Homo sapiens: one gene and its partner. The protein of the gene in region 1 interacts with the protein of each later gene in a pairwise test. Each region holds a gene or a part of one and is shown on either strand. Other genes may lie near its edges.

Evidence for each region.
Region 2: the proteins of NUP88 (region 1) and CD82 interact in a two-hybrid assay, tested with the Homo sapiens proteins (one large-scale study listed by IntAct).

Annotation. Positions count from the first base shown.
Region 1 is NC_000017.11:5,405,957-5,409,773, forward strand, and holds part of NUP88 (nuclear pore complex protein Nup88), read right to left. Parts: intron 2,954-3,817; coding exon 2,777-2,953; intron 1-2,776. UniProt on the Homo sapiens protein: Component of nuclear pore complex.
Region 2 is NC_000011.10:44,568,497-44,572,313, reverse strand, and holds part of CD82 (CD82 antigen), read right to left. Parts: intron 1-3,817. UniProt on the Homo sapiens protein: Structural component of specialized membrane microdomains known as tetraspanin-enriched microdomains (TERMs), which act as platforms for receptor clustering and signaling.

The DNA of each region.
Region 1 (3,817 bases):
TCTATATTCAAAGACTACCAAATCCTTTCTTCTAAAATGTAGCTTCTCTTCAAGGCTTTGGATCCCCATATTAAATTTGATTTGACAAATACTTATTATTGAGTGCTAGATGATACTCCCAGTGAATGATGGTTTAGTTGATGAGGCAGACATTTAACCAGAATTACTATACCATGTGATAAGTGCAACAACAGAAGGATTTATGGTGTACAAAGGAATGACAAAAAGATACAAAGATAATGAAGAAAGCTATAAAAAATAAATGAGAAAAATGAGAAAGAATGATTTCTGGGAAGGGGATTGTTGAGCATTCCAAGCTAGAGATCAGTTTATGCAAAGTCCTGGAAACATGAAAGACAAAGAACTAAGAACAAGAAAACTTATTTAGTATGATGGGAGGCAAAGTACAAGGTGGAAGGCAACGGCAAAATAGCTAGACAGACATCCAGGACTGGCTTATGAAGTACACAGTCTTGTGTGCTATGTTAAACTATTTGAAATCTATCTGCCGGGTAACAGTATATCACTAGAGGTTTAAATCAAGCGATGGAGCCTCACTTTACAAATCAGTCTGGTATTAGGGAGGAAGACATGGAAGGGTCCAAAATGGGATTTGGGGAAACTATTTAAGAAAATAAGCCAGGCAGATGGTGAAGTAGGCAGATGATGCAGTTCTGAAGCAGGGACAGAGGAATGCAGAGAAGGGTGTATAATCAGGGGTGTCCAATCTTTTGGCTTCCCTGGGCCACACTGGAACAATTGTTTTGGGCCACACAGAAAATACACTAACAATACGTGATGAGCTTTAAAAAAAAAAGAAAAGAAAAGAAAATCGCAAACAAATATCATAATGTTCTAAGAAAGTTTACAAATTTGCGTTGGGCTGCATTCAAGGCTGTCCTGGGCTGCGCGCAGCCCGTGGGTTGGACAAGCTTGGTGTATACTTTCGAAAAATTTAAATCACAAAATCAATAGAAATTTGGGACTGATGAAATGTAAGGATGAAGAAAACTTTTGGGTTTTGGGCTAACGTTACTAGGCAGATCATGGTTTGGACAAATGAGGGCTCAGCAGCAAGAGGAGAAAGGGTAAGGGAAGGTACTAAAGTTACCACAAAATCCTCCTGAGATCATGTGTGAAAGGCAGAGAACATTTCTGCCAAGGAGAATGCACTCAACAGTGAATCCTCACCATTCTGTAACCTACCGAGCTCTTTCATCTTTCTAATCTTTATGGTTTTGCGTACTCTCTTCTCTCTCCTGTACCCACTTCTGATTCTGTCTAGTGAATCCTTCAAGTTCAAGCTTTTGTAATAGCATTTCCTTAAAGTCTTCCAAGATGAGCAGGCCTACTCATTTACTCCATCACACTCCTGAAGAACCCGGTGATGCCCTGAGCACATGACACTGTACTATAGTTACTGGTTTAGTTGTATGCCCTTCTGGTAGTTAAGGAACCACATGGCAGGAACCTTGCCTTCAATCTTGTATTTCCATCTTCTGCCAGAGTGGGTCCTGAATAAGTATCTGTTAAGTCGATTTACAAGCGAATAAACTCTAATGCTCAGCCCTTAGCCTTATGCCTCTGCAGTTTTCCCTCAAATTCTTATCCTGTATAGACTCTCTCACCATGAAAGATGATTCTCATACCTCTATTTTAATTCTTCTTGTCTGTCATCATCCTGTATTTCCAACTGTCCATGGAATATTTCCATTTTATTGGTCCAATACTATCTTACACTGATTTACTTAGAAATAAATCTTCTCCCCCAATTAGCAGCCTTTACTGACCTGTTTCTGTTCATGGCATACTCCCTTATCCAAACAGTAACTAAGTCTTATTTATCCTTCCTTTGTTGTTATCTACTGTGTTTCATTTTTCCCTCTGTTCTATTACCACCCAAGTTCAAACTCTCATAAATGACAAGCTCAATTTTGCAAAAGCTTCTTTAAAAGTCTCTGTCCCAGTCCCCTCCCTAACCAATTGTTTTGTCCTTCTGTTCAGAAACCATCACTGGCTTCCTACTACCCTATTCCTACAGAAAAAAAACCCACACTCACTCTTTTAACGAGGTATTTTTAATTCCAGCAAATTTTCTCGGGACAGATACTCCAGCTTTATCACTTAATGCTCCCTACATGAATCCTCAGCTCTAGCCCAGAATGTCTAATAAATTAAGCTTGAATGACACTTGCACTTGCTTATTTTCAGACGCTACTTTATGCTGCCCTTGACAGAAATGGTCTCACTCTTCCTTGATACTTCATTTAATCCTGAATGAGACCTTTAAGTCACACATGACACCACTCCTTCTCTACGAAAATTTCCTTAACCTCCCAGTCAGAATGATCTCTCCTTCCTCGGGGTTCTTACTGTCTGTGTACCAATACTGTGGTATGGATAGTATTTTTTCATGTGTATGTATCTTTCTCCCCACAACTGGGACATAAGATACCAGATTACCACGCCTACGTGGTGTCTTGTTCATATAAGATAAACAATAAGCACTTGTTCGGATAACTAGAATTTGTGAACACAAATCCAGGCCTATCATAAGTGATTATCCAAGAATTCTATAGAACTTACCCAAATAATATGAAGAAATGAAAGGCCAAATGACCTGTACTAACTCTTTCTCAAAAATATGCAAGCCAAGCATGTGAAGGCTGCAACATTTCCACAGACTCAAAAACATGGCTCCCAAGTCCAGCCTCAATGATATCTACTGGAGCCCAAACTGAGTTTTCATTTCAGGTGGGTGACCACCTCAACTTACCTGTGTAACAGACTGATGTATGTCAGGAAAGTCTCTCCATTTTCATATAAGATGTACAGTGGGTATGCCACTACTTCATCTTTGCCGTTTTGTCCAAATAGAGTCTTTGGGACTGCTGCCAATGGCCCAAAGTCAAATGCAACTGCTGTCTCTCCTAGAGATGCGGTATACGCCCTTCTGGAAAGAGATGTAAAAACCAACTTGTTAAAAACAAAAACAACAAAAAGTAAAAAGAAAAACAAAACAAAACAAAAACACAAAATGTCTAATAACAGGAGGTGGGTATGTATGGAATTTGTAGGCAATGGACTGAAAAGACAAAAAATGATTATGAAGAATGTTAACATTTAAAAATTCTCAGCTGGGTGCAGTGGCTCATGCCTGTAATCCCAGCAATTTGGGAGGCCGAGGTGGGTGGATCACCTGAGGTCAGGAGTTCGAGACCAGCCTGGCCAACATGGTGAAACCCCGTTTCTACTAAAAATACAAAAATTAGTTGGGCGTGGTGGCAGGTGCCTGTAGTCCCAGCTACTTGGGAGGCTAAGGCAGGAGAATTGCTTGAACCTGGGAGGCGGAGGTTGCAGTGAGCCGAGATTGTGCCATTGCACTCCAGCCTGGGCGACAAGAGCGAAACTCCGTCTCAAAAAAAAAAAAAAAAAAAAAATTCTCATGAAATTAAGTGAAAAAAGCTGGCCATAAAATTATTTGGTTCTACTCTCATCTTAAATAGTTTAAATACACAGATATACAAATAGCAAAAATTTATTATATACACACACATAAATGCAAAAAGGAAACAGGAAAACACATGAAAACATCAACAGTTGTCTCTGAGCAGCAGGATCCGTAAGTTCTACAAATACTCGCAAAGCACCTACTCTGTGCCAGGTACTTTTCTAGGGTCTGGGAATATGTCAGTGAATTAAACAAATGTCCTGCCCTCTAGAGAGAGAAATACCACAAAAAGAGAAGAAATAAAGATGGAACATAAACTCAGAAAATATCATGAAAAATAAAGTAGGGTAAGAGGGTATTGATGGA
Region 2 (3,817 bases), on another chromosome or scaffold:
CTGTAATCTAATCTATATAATTGTATTTCGTAACGGGTACGTTACATGTAGTTGCCTGTATTTTGGCCTGATAGAGTAGAGTTGTAGGGGAGCAGCTCTGCCATTCAGTCTCTGCAATGCTTTAGGGCAGCAGCTGGGACCTGCCCACACTACAGCCTTCCTTCCTTCCTAGGCTGCAGGAGAATAAGCCAGGCCCCCAGGAGTCCTTCCCCTGAATAAAACCCTGCAGCCGTCCACTGTGGCATCACATGTGCCTCACTTACAAAAGCCAAGTGCAGCAAATGCAAGATAATATAGTTTTGTAGCCCAAGAAGGGCTATAACTTACCCAAGATAACACAGCAAGTAAAAGATGAGCTGGGAACGGAGCCCAGGTCCCCTGATCTCCAGACTCAAGCTCTTCAAAGACTTACATCCTGCTTCCTATTAACAGCACTACCAAAAACACCGAGCACAGTAGATCATGCCTGTAATCCCTTTGGGAGGCCAAGGCTGGAGGATCACTTGAGGCCAGGAGTTTGAGAGCAGCCTGATCAATATGGTGAAATCCTATCTCTACTAAAAATACAAAAATTAGCCTGGTGTGGTGGTGCATGCCTGAAATTCCAGCTACTCAGGAGGCTGAGACACGAGAATCACTTGAACCCGGGAGGTGGAGGTTGCAGTGAGCCAAGATTGCACCACTGCACTCCAGCCTCAGCAATACAGTGAGACTCTGTCTCAAAAAAAAATAAAAATAAAAATAAAACACTACCAAAAGCAGCAGGAACATATATAGCACTAACTATGTGCCAGGCGCTGTCTTAAATGCTTCATATGCATTAGCTCATATATCATTCTCAAACAACCCTATGAGATGAGTACTATTATTGTCTCCATTTTATAGATGCTGAAACTGATGCACAGAGCGGTAAGACACAAAGTCACGCCTAGCTGGTAAGTAGCAGAGGCGGGAATCATCCTTAGGCAATTTGATTCCAGAGTCTGTGATCTTGCCCAGGCTTTCTTCCCCACTCCCCCAGGCCCAAGCCCAGCTGGGACTCAGGAAGGCTTCTGGAACACTTGCTGCCTAAAAGGAAGAAAACCTGCCTAGAAGTCACCTCTCTGGCCAAGGTCATGCTGTAGCTCCATGGCAGAGCCAGGATTTGAACCCGGGCTTCCTAATGCCCAACTACCAGGGCATTGTTCACTTCTCCACATTGACACTGAGAGCCAAGGCCCAGAACTCTGAACAACTCCCACACCAGATCACCCTTCCACACAGCAGGGAAAGTCAAGTTGCGGGGTGGGGCGGCGGAGAAGAGGCAAAAGCTTCTGCTGCAGGGTAGGAGGTCAGAGGGGAGAGTGGGGCTTCCCAGAGCTGCCCACCTGGGGGTCTGCATGGATGATGTCCAGGATGGGCTTCCTGGAGGCCACCGTCCCATTTCTCCAGGCCCCAGCTTGAGTCCCCACAGGATAGCAGCACCTTCCACAAACAATTGTTGACTCCAAGATGCTCTTTCTGGCTGAGTCAGAGTTCACTAAAGGCCAGAGTGGCCCCTTCCTGGGTTAGGACTGAAGGAAGTCATGCTGTTCCCCTCTCAGGAGGGTAATAAAGGCCAGGCATCGGAAGAGAAGCAGAAGCTCTGCTGAAAGCAATTCCAGGACAGACGGTGCATTCCCATCTCCCTGGATCCAGGTTGCAGAAGTGCGGCCCACAGGCCTGAAGCACCAGGCAGTGGCATCCAGGTCCTGCTTCCCGGCTCCACTTTGCCAAGGAGTCACCTGGTATGTGGTACCAAGCTAGGTACTGCTGATACCCCCGGCCTCACCCAAGAGAACCACTAACCTATTCATTCAGTCATCGATCCCCAAGTGCCTGCTGTATGCCAGGAATCAGAGATACAGACAGGACAGGGCAGTGCCTGCCCAGGAGAGCTCATGGAAACACATCATACACCACAAAGTGGCAGGATCAAAGAGGAGGGTACACAGTGTAGACAAGCACAGAGGAGAAGGTGAAGGGCAATGAGGGGCTTGGGAAAGGCAGCCAAGCACAGAGGAGAAGGTGAAGGGCAATGAGGGGCTTGGGAAAGGCAGCCAGAGATGTTCAGACCTACTGCCCCTCAGGAAGCTGAGCGTCACAGTGAGGAGACCCAGCCACCCCCAGGAAGAGCCAGAGAGCCCCACATAGCCAGACATGACTGGCGTCTTGGGGCACACACATATTGGAGAGGCACAGAGGCCCTGTGCAGAAGGAAGGTGTTCTGGGAGTGTCCCTGGGGGCCTGAGAAGGAGCCTGGCACCAGCCTTGAAAGACCAACCAGATACAGCAAACAACAATGGCTCTCCTTTATTGAGCATTTACTATGTGCTAGGTATAACAATACTAAGCATTTCATGTGCACTTTTTTGTCTTCTCCTCATGACCTATGAAGTCATGACCATTATTATCCCCATTTGCAGGTTCAAAAACTGAGGCTCAGAAAGAGTCACGTAGCCAGAAATTGGCAGGGCCGAGATCTCAACTCTAAAGTCCAGTGCTTTACCGCCATGCTGTACCATCATCTCCCTAATCTGTTAACAGGCAGAAAGAAGATAAAGGTGCTTCAGGTGGGGGAAACAAGGTAAAAATAGGGAGGTAGGATCAAGTGCTCTTTGAGGGGAGCTGCCCAGCTCCTCTGTGTTGGGGTTGTATTTGTGTGTGTGCGCATGCCTGAGTATGGGTGGGTGTTCACAGACATGCCCTACTTTGCAAAGGATAGATCCCAGGTCCCAGAACTCCCCGAGAGCCAAGGAAAGAATGGGGCATCAGCAAGTCAGGGAAGGAATCCCAGAGAGAAGGAACTTATCTAAGGTCACACAACATACACACAGCAGAGCAGCAGCCAACTCCAAGGACCAGAACACAGGTCTCTTTCCTCCATCAGCTGCCTGTCCATGTCAGCACAGTGAATCAGCTGCTGACAGGAAAACCACAGTGGAAGGGGAAGCCCGGGGGTGAGTCAGGAACCAGCCAGCCTCCGAGAGACACCAGCTGGGCCTGTTGCAGAGGCCCCGGGTCTGTGGTTGTCTGCCTCTTCTTAGGGCAGCATCAGGGGCGAGGGGAGCAACACATCCCACACCACTCACTCCATGTTTACCTCTGGGCTTCCCCTCCCAGCTCCTCAGACCCCGGCTTAGTGGAGGGGAAGCGGGTGGGTAGGGCAGTTCCTGCTGAGATTAAACGGGTCCTGTCCCACAGAGGGGCCCAGGCCAAACAGTCCAGGCTCTTCCCTCCCTTCCCACCTCTCACAGAGCCAGCTCCTGGCCGTTTGATGTTCTTGATTAAGTCATAACCGCCCCCTGTGAGCTTCCCATGGGGCAGAGGAAGTGGGTATAACGGTTTGGAGCAGAAGGCCAAGGCCAAGGTCAAGCCAGAATCAGGGGTGCCAGCTGGCCCCAGATGCTCCGAATCTGAAACAACACTCAGAACTTGGGGCTGCTCAGCCATGGGTTGAGGGAGGACTGTCTGGTCCTTAGGGGAACAGGTTTGGGTCCCCAGGGTGGAAGGGGATGGCCGGTGGGAGCTTCCAGGCTGTGGCTCTAAAGCGTGAGGCCTCAAGACAGAGGGGGCCGCCCCCACATAGCGGAAACTTCAGAGGAGCCCAGGGAAGCCAAAATCCTGCCCCAGTCCCCCTACTGTGGGAAACTTGTGCCCTGACTGCTCACCCACTGCCAGAGATAGCACATGGCTGACCTCTCACCCCTATCCTCCCTGGGCTGGGATGGGAGGGAGGGATCAGCAGGCACTTCTTCTAACCATCCCGCCCCCGACCCCCAAACTTACTGCTGGCTGG